Homo sapiens: one gene and its partners. The protein of the gene in region 1 purifies or fractionates together with the protein of each later gene. This does not show direct contact. Each region holds a gene or a part of one and is shown on either strand. Other genes may lie near its edges.

Evidence for each region. Proteins that work in one complex are often made in the same cells at the same time.
Region 2: the proteins of IMMP1L (region 1) and ANAPC7 purify together in Homo sapiens (affinity purification with mass spectrometry; one large-scale study listed by BioGRID and IntAct). This does not show direct contact.
Region 3: the proteins of IMMP1L (region 1) and ZER1 purify together in Homo sapiens (affinity purification with mass spectrometry; 2 studies listed by BioGRID and IntAct, with this or other methods). This does not show direct contact.
Region 4: the proteins of IMMP1L (region 1) and PRKAG1 purify together in Homo sapiens (affinity purification with mass spectrometry; one large-scale study listed by BioGRID and IntAct). This does not show direct contact.

Annotation. Positions count from the first base shown.
Region 1 is NC_000011.10:31,450,448-31,454,327, reverse strand, and holds part of IMMP1L (mitochondrial inner membrane protease subunit 1), read left to right. Parts: intron 1-3,880. UniProt on the Homo sapiens protein: Catalyzes the removal of transit peptides required for the targeting of proteins from the mitochondrial matrix, across the inner membrane, into the inter-membrane space. Known to process the nuclear encoded protein DIABLO.
Region 2 is NC_000012.12:110,390,209-110,393,708, forward strand, and holds part of ANAPC7 (anaphase-promoting complex subunit 7), read right to left. Parts: intron 1-3,500. UniProt on the Homo sapiens protein: Component of the anaphase promoting complex/cyclosome (APC/C), a cell cycle-regulated E3 ubiquitin ligase that controls progression through mitosis and the G1 phase of the cell cycle.
Region 3 is NC_000009.12:128,737,428-128,740,927, forward strand, and holds part of ZER1 (protein zer-1 homolog), read right to left. Parts: intron 3,461-3,500; coding exon 3,345-3,460; intron 2,693-3,344; coding exon 2,504-2,692; intron 1-2,503. UniProt on the Homo sapiens protein: Serves as substrate adapter subunit in the E3 ubiquitin ligase complex ZYG11B-CUL2-Elongin BC. Acts to target substrates bearing N-terminal degrons for proteasomal degradation with the first four residues of substrates being the key recognition elements.
Region 4 is NC_000012.12:49,005,277-49,008,776, forward strand, and holds part of PRKAG1 (5'-AMP-activated protein kinase subunit gamma-1), read right to left. Parts: intron 3,324-3,500; exon of another isoform or gene 3,150-3,323; intron 577-3,149; coding exon 467-576; intron 317-466; exon of another isoform or gene 268-316; coding exon 186-267; intron 116-185; coding exon of another isoform or gene 89-115; coding exon 30-88; intron 1-29. UniProt on the Homo sapiens protein: AMP/ATP-binding subunit of AMP-activated protein kinase (AMPK), an energy sensor protein kinase that plays a key role in regulating cellular energy metabolism.

The sequences.
Region 1 (3,880 bases):
GTTTTGAAATACACAACACAATATTGTTAACCATAATCACCCTACTGTGTGGTAGAACACCAGTAGGGTGTTCTATTACCGAGTTTTTATATGTTTGATAAATGTGCAAATTATATGACATTGCCATTTTGTTCCAGGTGTATTCCATTCACTTTTGTTGGACAAATTTATAAGTATACAGTACATCATTCTAATAATCTTGGTCAGCACTTATTTTGTACTTCCTCCATACTGTTGAGAATCTTTTCAAAGGTTAACTTATTTAATTATCACAACAGCAACCCGATGAGTAGGTAACAGTATTTTACTGATAGGTAATCTAAAGAAGGAGGCTAAATAAATTGCCCAATTTCGAACAGTGAGAGGAAGAATTAGGATTGAAACACATATAGTGGCTTCAGAATCTGTAACCCTCACGATGCCACTACTACTTCTTTCAGAATACCCTTTGCCTATCTATTCTGTTCCTATGTCATCAAATTATACTTACTTTAAAAAGTATTTGTCTTTATTATTTTTAAAAAAACACAGGGAAGTATTTCTGATCAGGGGCAGTATTGGTTCTGAAAGACAAGCCAGTGTTTTTGAGGGTTTCTCCCTTGCCAGTTTTTCTATGCTGGGTTATTCAAGTCCTAAGAATTGTGTAGCTATTACAGAACCGCTTTAGCAAATGTGTTCCATTAATCAAGGTGATTTATAACAAAATTTCATCCAAGTTTGGAGTGCTCTGAAAACATAGCCAAAATGTTCGCAGGGTCTACCCCTCTCGTGTGTCCCTTTTTTTAGCTATTTCAGAAGCACACTGGTGCAATATTTTACGAAATGAGTTTCTTCCCCTTACCTCTGCATCCTCTAAGAAAAATCATTGTTGTTTATGAGATGAAGATCCTGCTATTCATATCTTGATTGAGCTGCTTAATAAAATGAACAATATTAAAATATGTTTTGAATTCCAGGCAAAAAAAGTTTATTCTTGTATGTAGGTGCTTCAGAAAGCAAAACACCAAAATTGTTCATTGGAACCTAGCCTGTAGAGTTTAGCATATCAAAGAAATAGCATTGTTTGTAGGTTGGCAGAAAAGAACATAAACAAATCATTGGTTAAGTGATGTAGTGATGTGGGATCATTTTATTCTTTCCAGAGTTCTTTTTTGTTTGTTTGTTTTCCATTCCAGAGTTTTAAAAGACCACATGGCAAGCAACGCTTATAAATCAGCTTTATTTTTTACTGTTAGGTATTTGGAAACTAAGCAGTTCCTATTAAGATGCTGTTGCTGGCCGGCCGCGGTGGCTCACGCCTGTAATCCCAGCACTTTGAGAGGCCAAGGCAGGCAGATCACCTGAGGTCAAGAGTTTGAGACCAGCCTGCCCAGCATGGTGAAACCCTGTCTCTGCTAAAAATGCAAAAAATTAGCCAGGCGTGGTGGCAGGCGCCTGTCATCTCAGCTACTTGGGAGGCTGAGGCAGGAGAATCGCTTCAACCTGGGAGGTGGAGGTTGCAGTGAGCCGAGATCGCGCCACTGCACTGCAGCCTGGGCAACAAGAGCGAAACTCCGTCTCAAGAAAAGAAAAGAAAAAAAAAGATGCTGTTTGCTTTCCTTATTTTGAAGGTACTGAAGCCAATAATTCTTTCCTGGGGTTATGTATGAACTGAGCATTGGCTACTGTAAAGATATGAGATTAATTTGTGACTCTCAAAAGAAACAAATTGTCATAAGCTCAGACATCTTGAGTATGTTGCCTTTCTGTATATTCTACAGGAATTCCTCAGTTTGCTGCTTGAAGCCACTGCTTTATCAGAAAAAATAATTTAGTTGGAAGTAGGAGCATGTAGCAAATAAGAAATAAATAAAATGAGTTGGCATTCTCCTATTGGTTTGCACAGCAGGCAAAATGCAAAGTAAACCTCTATTTAATTCCCTTAGGGAATGTAGGGCCAGGGCTCAGAAATACACTATAATTTTGTTATAAAGCCAATTAAAAGAAGAAGAAAAGCACTCATAATGTTTATTAGTATAATATTGTGTGATAATCCAGGACTATGCTTTTAATCCATGGGATAACTATGAAATAGGCATTTTGAAATATGGTAAATTCCTATCAACAAACATGTTGTAAAATCTGCATCTAAACAAACTCCCATGACACCACATCCTCCTATAGGGAAGAGTTGTGTATAGTTACTCCACTCTGAGCTTCATATTATTTTTTCGAACTCATTCCAGTTAGACTTTGGTCTCCACCACTTCACTGATGGTTCTTGTCAAAGTCGCTAATGACTTCTCTTGTTGTCTCTCCAGTGATCAACTCTCAGTCCTCATCATACTTGACCTATTGTTAATATTTGAAATAGTTGTTCTCAAAACCTGGTTTCACTTAGTTTTTGGGACACTGCTTTTTCTAGGTTTTTTTCCTATCTTTCTTCTGAATTTCCTTTATTGGTTCCTCCTCATATCCAAACATTGGAATGACCTTCAAACCCTGAAGTTAACTAAAGGTTCATATTTTAAACTTCTGTTGTTTATCTACACTTATACTTTAGCTGACCTCATCCTGTCTCATGGTTTTATGTACAGTACTTTTTAACTTACTCTCAAATTTATATCAAGTATAACCTCTTCCCTGAACTCCAGAGTCATGTCTAATTGTCTAATATCTTCACTTTAATGAATAATGGTCATCTCAAACTTACTGTATCCAAAGCTAAAATCCTGATTTTCTGTCCCAAAATGGCTCCTTCCATACACTTCCCATCATATGGGGAAGAAAACCCCATGCTACTTGTTCAGGCCACAAACCTTAGAGTTATCCTTACTCTCCTCTTTCACCCTACATCCAATCCCGTAGCAAATCATGATTATACCTTCTATATATAATCAGAATCAAACCACGTTTTGCCACTGTCACTGCTACCATCCATTAGTTTGCAAGATAAACTCATCTCTCTCATTTTGTTGCAATAATTTTTGAACTGTTTTCTTTGCTTATACCCTTCCGATTTTCTGGCATCTCTACCCTTTCCATTATACTCTCCACACCGCAGCTAAGGTCATCCTTTTTGATGATGATGCTTTTTAAGAGCAATTATGTCACTCTTCTGCTTAAAGACCCCAGTGGCTCCCCATCTCACTTACAGTAAAAGCCATAGGCCTTATGGTGGCCTGCAAGACCCTGCATAATCATTTTGCCTGCTGCCTTTCTTGTAATTATTGTGTCATTGGAACACAATAATGCCCATTCATTTATCTGTTGTCTGTGTTTGCTTTCTCTAAAATGTCAAAGTTGAATAGTTGTGACAGAAACTATATGGCTTGCAACACCTGGACTATTTCCTATTTGTCCCTTTTCAGGAAAAGTTTGCTGACCCCCTGATCTAGAGCATAAGATTCTTGGTGACAGGGACTCATTTTAATCGCAGTTGATTTCATATCATTTCAACTGTGATTTGGCATCTAGTAGATTTTTTAAAATTCTTGAAGGGTGGACAGATCTAGATATATATGAATAGGGTGCTAGTTTCTTTTCTACTTCTACTCCTTTTTTTCTACTAGTTTCTACTGCAAACTTGCTCCCAAGTAAATGCATGATGTTACAACTTCTCAGAAGATGTTCATGGAGCCTACCACGCTGCTGAACTGCCCAATCTGTGGTCATTCTAGTCTTCATAGACTTGAAAGCTAAGCTATTTCCAGTGATAAGACTACCTGACCACCTTATGACAATGGCAGGTGAAAGTTGTAGAAAATATTGGAATGTTCCTCTTACGGTGTACCAGGAGAGCAGAGTGCTGATTAAATGTTTCTTTTCCTAAGTGACTTCTATTTAGGACTGCATATTTTTCAGGCCTTTCTTTAAGCAGAATAAAAATTCACCAGGCTCT
Region 2 (3,500 bases), on another chromosome or scaffold:
CAGGCACCCGCCACCACGCCCAGCTAATTTTTTTTTTGTATTTTAAGTAGAGATGGTGTTTCACCATGTTGGCCAGGCTGGTCTTGAACTCCTGACCTCAGGTGATCCAACCACCTCGGCCTCCCAAAGTGCTGGGATTACAGGCGTGAGCCACCGTGTCTGGCAAAATTAGTAGATTTTAAACACAACAGTATTTGCTAGATCATTAACCTAAGGAAGCAGTCAATGTGAGGGCACAAAAGAAAAAAGGTCAACCCCCAATCTCTTCGATTTAACTGTGGCTTGGTATGCCAGATATTTATAGAAAGAGTGGCTCTAAAGATAAAGAACATCTGTTCCAATTATAGACCTACATTATATAAAACAATCTAATATAGCATTGATTCACACTAATTCAAACAATGGAATAATGAAATACTAAAAATAAAACTATTTTTTACTTGGCCTCAGATTTTCCATATTAGGCTACTATTTTGAAAATGCAAAGAAAAATACTTAAAAGGAAAACTCCAGGATTGATGTCAATACTTGTAAAGAATAAAAAGTTAAATTTAAGATCCTTTCTTGACTGCTGGTTATATTAACAAACTATGACTGATGGACTATCTTTCTCAACAAATATCAAAATTTCCTTTAAGCTACTTGACTGTCACTTTAAAAGAATGAGTTTTGAGTAATACCTAATGAAAAAGTCAATTATTGGCCGGGCGCAGTGGTTCACACCTCTAATCCTAGCACTTTGGGAGGCCGAGGTGGGTGGATCACGAGGTCAGGAGATCGAGACCAGCCTGGCCAACATGGTGAAACCCCGTCTCTACTAGAATACAAAAAATTAGGCAGGTGCAGCGGTACGCGCCTGTAGTACCAGCTACTCAGGAGGCTGAGACAGGAGAATCGCTTGAACCCAGGAGGTGGAGGTTGCAGTGAGCTGAGATCATGCCATTGCACTCCAGCCTGGGCAACAGAGAGAGACTCCATCTCAAACAAACAAACAAAAAAAGTCAACTATTTTAAAAATAGATACTCACTTAAAAACATCATAAAGCCACATTCCACCAGTTATAAACACAAGCAGTCATCATTTTCTAAAAACTGAGTAAGAAATTCTATGTTGGTATGTTTACTCTTAAAAGGTGAAGATTTACCAAGATTTAATAATCTAACACTGGAATTTTCCTTTAAAATGTGAGGGAATATGTGGCGATGTTTACCATATATTAACAGACATTCATTTAGACACATTTTGACTCACTTCCTTGTCCTTTACATAGACTGAGAAGCCAGTTAACTCCCTAACAGACAAGAAAGAAAAACTGTAAATGTTATAGGTTTATGTTTGAGGCACACATCTTTGCTCCTAGCTGTAAGAGCACTACAGAATGAAGGATATGTACTGCTGACAAATGCAGACTCATACAGGTGCTCTAAGAATGATGGCAATGAAAATCAAGCAGTGGATGCTATAAAGCTGAGATGCTTTAACATTACTATTTTCAAAAAAAAGTCCTACAAATATCCACAGGTCATTATGAAGGAGATTATGGTATATTTCTAATAAAGTAAGGAATAGTATCCTTCAAAGTTTATAATTAAAATGGCTTCTTGGCCGGGCGTGGTGGCTCATGCCTGTAATCCCAGCACTTTGGGAGGCCAAGGCAGGCGGATCACCTAAGGTCAGATCGAGACCATCCTGGCCAACATGGTGAAACCCCGTCTCCACTAAAATGCAAAAAAGTAGCTGGGCGTGGTGGCACACGCCTGTAGTCCCAGCTACTCGGGAGGCTGAGGTAGGGGAATCGCTTGAACCCGGGAGGTGGAGGTTGCAGTGAGCCAAGATTGTGCCACTGCACTCCAGCCTGGCAACACAGCAAGACTCCACCTCACAAAAAAAAAAAAAAAAAAAAAAAAGGCTTCTTACAAAAGGAAGATACCTTGAGCATTGCAGCAGACATTCTTCATCTGTGCAACAAGATTATTCTTGGAGTAAGAGAAGACTTTCATAGGTTACCAGAACAGGATTTAGTATACAGCATCCAGGCTTATGATGAGAGAGGTTAATTCATAATAAACTTTCAAGTGTTTTTAATAGCAGCCACCATCATACTGAAGAAATAGCTTCAAAAACTCAGAAAATAGTAAATAATACCTTAATATGAGGAGGTGCTTAAACATGTTCTCATCAAGTTTGGTTACTTTTAAAGTTCAGCAAGACTTGGATGAAGCAGCACTAACTAAAATACACCAGGCCCCTACTGCTTAGATTTCGTATCTTTTAAAGGCAGGAGGATGCACCTGTCATTTTACCTATAAAATTCCTTATTGTTAAGCACAAGTTGCACAAAACAGTTTTTCAATAAAATGAGCAAGGCAGGAGACATGACAGTATTATTAGAATATTAAATACTGATATATTCTCACATTCATGAATTTATTTGGTATTTATAAAAGTAACAGAAAAAATACTATTCTTCTCATTTTATAAATAAAAAAGTAGTAAAGCTCACAAATTGGTAACTTGCCCAAGTTCACACTGCACACAGCTTGTATGCACCTAAACTCAAACTAGACACCAGATCTTTTTTTGTTTGTTTTTTTGTTTTTTTTGAGATGGAGTTTCACTCTTGTTGCCCAGGCTGGAGTGCAATGGCACCACGTCGGCTCACCGCAACCTCTGCCTCCTGGGTTCAAGCGATTCTCCTGCCTCAGCCTCCAGAGTAGCTGAGATTACAGGCATGCGCCACCACACCCGGCTAATTTTATATTTTTAGTAGAGACGGGGTTTCTCCATGTTGGTCAAGCTGGTCTCGAACTCCCAACCTCAGATGATTCACCCACCTCGGCCTCCCAAAGTGCTGGGATTACAGGCATGAGCCACCATGCCCAGCCGACACCAGATCTTTTGATTTTAGTTAAAGGTGTTTTCTTCACTATAATATGCTGCCAAATCAAACACAAAGACATATTCTACACATAAATAAGGATAAAAGAATCTTACAGTATTAATTTTCAAAACAAAGGAATAAAACCACCCCCATTACCAAATGTGTACACCTATGGAAGGCAAAAAATGAAGTTCTAAAAAAGTATTTTTGCCACCTGGAAGTGTTTTGCAAATAAATCATTATTTCCTATAATAAGAAATATCAAAGTCTTCTCTGCCTATGGAGTAGCCATTCTTTATTCCTTTATTTTATTAATAAACTCACTTTCACTTAAAAACAAAAACAAACACAAGGAGGCCAGGTGCAGTGGCTCCTGCCTGTAATCCCAGCAATTTGGGAGGCTAAGGGGGGAGGACAACTTGAGCCCAGAAGTTTGGGACCAACCTGGGCAAATGGTGGAGACCATCTCTATTTAAAAAAAAGAAAAAAAAAATTGGCCGGGCATGGTGGCTCCCACCTGTAACCCCAGCACTCTGTGAGGCCGAGGTGGGTGGATCACCTGAAGTCGGGAGTTCAAGACCAGCCTGACCAACATGGAGAAACCCAGTCTCTACTAAA
Region 3 (3,500 bases), on another chromosome or scaffold:
ACGCTACCAATGTCAGCCTGTTCCTCCCAGTATGGGTTTTCAACTGAAATGTCCATCTGTACAGGATGGCACAAAGAAAGTGACTCCGTCCTAAAATGACGAGGGAGATCCATGCCTGGTGATTGGCCAGTCAGTCACAAAACAGTAGGAATTGATGCCAGCTTGACTTAAAGTAATGAAATCTGTGCATAGAAACACTGCTGGAAGGAGACACACCAAAATGTCAACAGGAGTTCTCTTTCAGGGAGTGAGATTATGAACGATTCTTGTTTTCTTCTTCTTCTTTTTTTTTTGAGATGGAGTATCACTCTGTTGCCCAGGCTGGAGTGCAGTGGCGAGTTCTTGGCTCACTGCAACCTCTGCCTTCCAGGTTCAAGTGATTCTCCTGCCTCAGCCTCCCAAGTAGCTGGGATTACAGGTGCCCACCACCATGCCTGGCTAATTTTTGTATTTTTAGCAGAGATGGGGTTTCACTGTGTTGGCCAGGCTGGTTTCGAACTCCTGACCTCAGGTGATCCGCCTGCCTCAGCCTCCCAAAGTGCTGGGATTACAGGTGTGAGCCACTGTGCCCGGCCCTGTTTTGTTTTCTTGTTTTTTTTATTCATTTTTATTTTTATTTTTATTTATTTATTTTTGAGACGGAGTCTCGCTCTGTCGCCCAGGCTGGAGTGCAGTGGCGCGATCTTGGCTAACTGCAAGCTCCGCCTCCCAGGTTCACGCCATTCTCCTGCCTCAGCCTCCCGAGTAGCTGGGACTACAGGCGCATGCCACCACGCCCGGCTAATTTTTTGTATTTTTAGTAGAGGTGGGGTTTCACTGCGTTAGCCAAGATGGTCTCGATTTCCTGACCTCATGATCTGCCCGCCTCTGCCTCCCAAAGTGCTGGGATTACAGGTGTGAGCCACTGTGCCCGGCCCTGTTTTGTTTTCTTGTTTTTTTAATTTATTTTTATTTTTATTTTTATTTATTTATTTTTGAGACGGAGTCTCGCTCTGTCGCCCAGGCTGGAGTGCAGTGGCGCGATCTCGGCTAACTGCAAGCTCCGCCTCCCAGGTTCACACCATTCTCCTGCCTCAGCCTCCCGAGTAGCTGGGACTACAGGCGCATGCCACCACGCCCGGCTAATTTTTTGTATTTTTAGTAGAGGTGGGGTTTCACTGCGTTAGCCAAGATGGTCTCGATTTCCTGACCTCATGATCCGCCCGCCTCTGCCTCCCAAAGTGCTGGGATTACGGGTGTGAGCCACCGCGCCTGACCTTCTTCTTTTTTTTAAAGAAATGGTCTCATTCTGTCCCCTAGGCTGGAGTGCAGTAGCATGATGTTGGCTCACTACAGCCTCGACCTCCTGGGCTCAAGTGACCCTCCTGCCTCAGCCTCCCCAGTAGGTGGGACTACAGGTGTGCACCATCACACCCAGCTCATTTTTTTTTTTTTTTTTTTTTGAGATGGAGTCTTGGTCTGTTGCCCAGGCTGGAATGCAGTGGCGCCATCTCGGTTCACTGCAACCTCTGCCTCCTGGGTTCAAGCGATTCTCCTGCCTCAGCCTCCTGAGTAGCTGGGATTACAGGTATGTGCCACCACGCCAGGTTAATTTTTGTATTTTTAGTAGGGACGGGGTTTCACCATGTTGGGCAGGCTGGTCTTGAACTCCTGACCTCGTGATCTGCCCGCCTCAGCCTCCTAAAGTGCTATGATTACAGGCGTGAACCACTGCACCTGGCCTGATTTTTAAAATTTTTCGTAAAGAGGAAGTCTCACTATGTTGCCCAAGCTGGTCTTGAAATCTTGGGCTCAGCTGGACGCAGTGGCTCATGCCTGTAATCCCAGCACTTTGGGAGGCCGACGTGGGCGGATCACGAGGTCAGGAGATCGAAACTATCCTGGCTAACACGGTGAAAACTCGTCTCTACTAAAAATACAAAAAAATTAACCGGGCGTGGTGGCGGGTGCCTGTAATCCCAGCTACTCTGAGGCTGAGGCAGGAAAATGGCGTGAACCCAGGAGGCAGAGCTTGCAGTCAGCTGAGATTGCACCACTGCACTCCAGCCTGGGCGACAGAGCAAGACTCTGTCTCAAAAAAAAAAAAAAAAGAAAAGAAAGGAAATCTTGGGCTCAAGTGATCCTCCTGTCTCAGCTTCCCAAAGTGCTGGGATTATGGGCAAGAGCTACTGTGCCCGGCCCACCTGTATGGTTTTCTGTTGTGTGTCTATTTTCTCCCCACCCCTCCCCACAAATCAGTAGGTATTAGTGGTTTGCAAAGAGCAGGCTTTGGGTACATGCAGATGTTGGCATGTATGACAAATGCTCCAGGCTGCACGGATGAGATCGTGCCCTTATGTATGCTCTGTGCTGTGTGCGGCTACGTATCAATGAGTGAAAGCAGAACCCTACAGAAGACCAGAAGGAAGGTGGGAGCTCTGAGCAGACCTTAATGGTATGAGCATCCTGCCCAGCACTTACCCCATATTCCACACCGCATCCCCGCTCCCTGCCCTGCCCACACCTGTAATTGATGTTTCTCCGAGAGTTTATGTCCCAGCTCTGGATGGCAGCCCACATGCGTTCCTCCACCTCCTCACGCTGGGGCTCACAGACGCCCCAGGCCTCGGGTCCATCAAACATGATGTGGGAGAGGACGCCGCAGGCATTGTAGGAAACCTCGATCCCATCGGCCTTGCTCTCCAACAGGTTGCTGCCAGGAGAAAGACAGAAAAATGGAGTCCCACTCCCCCAGTTTCTCTTCAGATACCAGCGGCAGGACCCCAACTTAAAACCAGAAGCAAGAGGTGCTACTTATTTCTTTATCCCATATCGTCTATATACCCAGACTACTTCTAAAGGGATTTGAGGTCATTTAAGATATAATTACAGGCTGGGCGCAGTGGCTCACGCCTGTAATCCCAGCACTTTGGGAGGTCAAGGCAGGTGGATCACGAGGTCCGGAGATCGAGACCATCCTGGCTAACATGGTGAAACCCCATCTCTACTAAAAATACAAAAAAATTAGCTGGGCGTGGTGGCAGGCGCCTGTAGTCTCAGCTACTCGGGAGGCTGAGGCAGGAGAATGGCGTGAACCCGGGAGGCAGAGCTTGCAGTGAGCCTAGATTGTGCCACTGCACTTCAGCCTGGGTGACAGAGCAAGACTCCATCTCAAAAAAAAAAAAAAAGATATAATTACAAAAGGACCACTTACGAAGGATTGAATGAATAAGAAACCACATTATCGAGGGAAAATGACATTTATAGCAAACCTAGGCTAAGAGCAGTTGTGCAACTGAGCAAACGCTAGAGCTCTGAGCATTGTGGCAGCTAAGGCAAAAAGGGAAAGGATTAAAAATACCAACCTGAAGACGCTGATGAACTGGGAAGTCATTAGTTGAGGCCTCAGCTCCTTCACTTCTGCCACATTCCCCAAAAGTCCTAGCATATTCCTATGCAGTTCCTGCTTCTCTGGGAATTCCTGGGAAAAGGAGAGCCAATGGGCCGCATCAATTAGTACT
Region 4 (3,500 bases), on another chromosome or scaffold:
ATTTTGGTCATTGGGTTAAGGTTCCTTACCAAGGCTGATTTATAGTAGCGGTGCAGGATATTGATGAAATCAGTGATGGTCAGCATGCCTAGAGGACAAGACAGAGCCCTCAGCACTGCCTGAAGCTTGTCTCCCTGCCCAGCACAAGATGCCAATAATATTGTGTTCCAGAAACTTTTGCTTACCCACAAAACTTTGCTTCTTACTATCCCATAAAGGGGCAGCTCGTACACCGTTAGTCACCAAAGCAAAAAAAGCTTTCTTCACCTGTAGCCAAGACAGTAATAATCATAAAGGCAAATCCACAGGGGCAGGACTGTAAAAAAAGAACAGTGTTTGGGCATGTTGGGTAAAACATGAGACTAACTTCACAGAAGGATAAGGATATTACCCTTAGGATGAGATAGGATGAGAGGTATTAAACCACAGGCTCCAAAGGGGGAAGGGAAAAGAGGATTTCACCCACCTGCAGGGACGTATCAAATACAACCAATTTGGAGCTTGTGGGAATCAGGTCATAGCAGCGATGAGACTTCATGAAGGAAGTATACACGCTATTGTTGGATTCTGGGGTCTCTGCATAGGGTGGGATAGTTAGTAGCTTCCTTCCACATAAAAACTCCCAATCAAAAGAGACAGAAAACAAAATAGTGTTCTAGTATCTCAAATATTTAGAGCATTATTTTTTAATAAGACCCCTTATTTTATCTGTCTTGTTCCTATTGTTTCCACAAAACCTGGATAAACCTCTTAGAAACCATTTCATCCAACCCCTGTCTCCAGGTTAAGACTTTATCTATTGGTCCCTATAGGTAAAAGAAGTTGACTAAAACATAAAGCCTATAGTATCTCTCTTTAACATGTTATAGTCTAAAAATGTTTCTCATCTTTAATCCAAGCTTTCCCTTTCATATACTTAGCACATTTTCACTTTCCTCTTTTTTCAATGAAGTAAGCTTCTTAAAATTCTTCCAAGACTGTGCTGGGGATGGTGGCAAGCACCTGTAATCCCAGCTACTCAGGAAGTTGAGGCAGAGGATCACTTGAACCCAGGAGCTCGAGGCCAGCCTGGGCAACACAGCGAACCCCTGTCTCAATTAAAAAAAAAATTATTCTAAGACCTGCAAATGGGAAAGTCATGGTCCAAGTTGGGCCATTTCTCATTAACAATAAGTTGGAGCCCAGTGCTCAATCAACCTGGCTCAAAACACCCTGATAGTCCATTCTGGGATCACCCTGTAAATCAGAAATCATCCCACCTACTCTAGACAAATGGGAGATCCTGGCTAGTTTACCTTTTTCTATTCCTGTGATTTTAATTGCTTGCTCTAAACTAGGGAAGTAATCTCCCAAAATAATAGCTTGAATGTGCTACATACTATACTACGTGCACTTAAAAATATTACATTGAGGCTGGGCGTGGTGGCTCATGCCTGTAATCCCAGAACTTTGGGAGGCCAAGGTGGGAGGATCACCTGAGGTCGGGAGTTCAAGACCAGCCTGACCAACATGGATAAACCCTGTCTCTATTAAAAATACAAAATTAGCCGGGCATGGTGGCGCATGCCTGTAATCCCAGCTACTCGGGAGGCTGAGGCAGGAGAATTGCTTGAACCCGGGAGGCAGAGGTTGCGATGAGCCGAGATCGCAACATTGCACTCCAGCCTGGGCAACAAGAGTGAAACTCCGTGTCAAAAAAATAAATAAATAAATAAATAAATTACATTGGCTGGGCGTGGTGGCTCACACCTGTAACCCAGGACTTTGGGAGGCCAAGGTGGGTGGATCACCTGAGGTCAGAAGTTTGAGACCAGCCTGGCCAACATGGCGAAACCCCGTCTCTACTAAAAAAATATAAAAATTAGCCAGGCGTGGTGGCACGTGCCTGTAGTCCCAGCTACTCAGGGGGCTGAGGCAGGAGAATTGCTTGAACCCAGGAGGTGGAGGTTGCAGTGAGACGAGATTGTGCCTCTGCACTCCAGCCTGGGCGACAGAGTGAGACTCCGTCTCAAAAAAAAAAAAAAAAAATTACATAATTTAATCCTTACAACAAATGTGTAAGTAATGTCCTCATGTTTCAGATGAGAAAATAGGTGTAGTTAAATAAACTGCTCAAGGTCACACCATTAATAAGTGGCAAGAAAGACTCAAACAAACCCAGATCTGTTTCCAAACTTCATGCTCTTAAGTCTTTAATCAATTTGGTTTTTAATATTTATTTTTTTAACCAAAGTTATATAGACACACAGTTAAATCAGTCCAACAGTTTTACAAATTTTGTTAAGAAAAAATTGCACTCCTTGCAACCCACCTCCCTGTACTACCCTTCCCCAGAGATGAGAACATCTATCTACCTTAGTTGATTATTTTGGTACTTAATTCTATGTCCTTAAATAACATGCTTGTATTGCTAGTTTCCATTTTTTTTTTCATTTTGGGGCATTATTTATCATCTATCTACCAAAGAAGATGAGAATTTCTAGTTCTCTCTCCTACTAGGACTCCACCACAAACACGTACTTCCCATTCTCCTCATTATTCCAGGAGCTAAACCATAATGTTGGTTATATCCGTATTTCAATCTTTTTTTTTTTTTTTTTTGAGAGGGAGTCTTGCTCTGTCACCCAGGCTGAAGTGCAGTGGCACGATCTCAGGTTACTACAACCTCAGCCTTCCAGGTTCAAGCGATTCTCCTGCCTCAGCCTCGCAAGTAGCTGGGGTTACAGGTGCCCGCCACCATGCCCGGCTAAATTTTGTATTTTAGTAGAGACAGGGTTTCACCACATTGGCCAGGCTGATCTCGAACTCCTGACCTCATGTGATCTGCCCGCTTTGGCCTCCCAAAGTGCTGAGATTACAGGAATGAGCCACTGCACCCGGCCAGTATTTAAATCATTTTGACTGAATATTTATTATTCAGAGATAAGCCAAATAGTAAACTCTGATTTTTTTTTCTTCCTTCACAACTTTGTTTTACCTGGAGTTAATGTCTTGTCCTTTTGTTTAATTTTCTATGTATAATTCTTATAACTAATCCAACCCCCAAATGCTTCACCAACTATTTAAATCTCCTTTTAAGAGGTTCAAAAGCATTAGACAGTCTATCAAAATTTAAACTACCCAAAGAAATCTCCCTGGAGCCTTCTGACCTGCTCAAATCTGGGCTGGTTTGTCTGGTGTGCACTGCTGTCATCCTGGGATCTTTCTTCATCACCATCCTGGGTACCCCTTTCACGTCTGTCCTCTACTGGTGCTCCTATATCGCGTTTTTATCTTTTTTGATTACTCCCTTATTTTGGTGGAACACATCTTCCAGTAGCTTCCTGAGAAAGGGTGCATGGGAGGTATGTGTTTTTGAGACCTTGCAGCCTGTAGATATCTTTATTCTACCCTCATCCTTGGATTTATAATTCGGCTGAATAGAGAATCTGCAGGAAAGCTTGGAATGTGTTTTCCTGCAGAATGTTGAAGGCATTGCTCCATTGCCTGCTAGCTGCTGG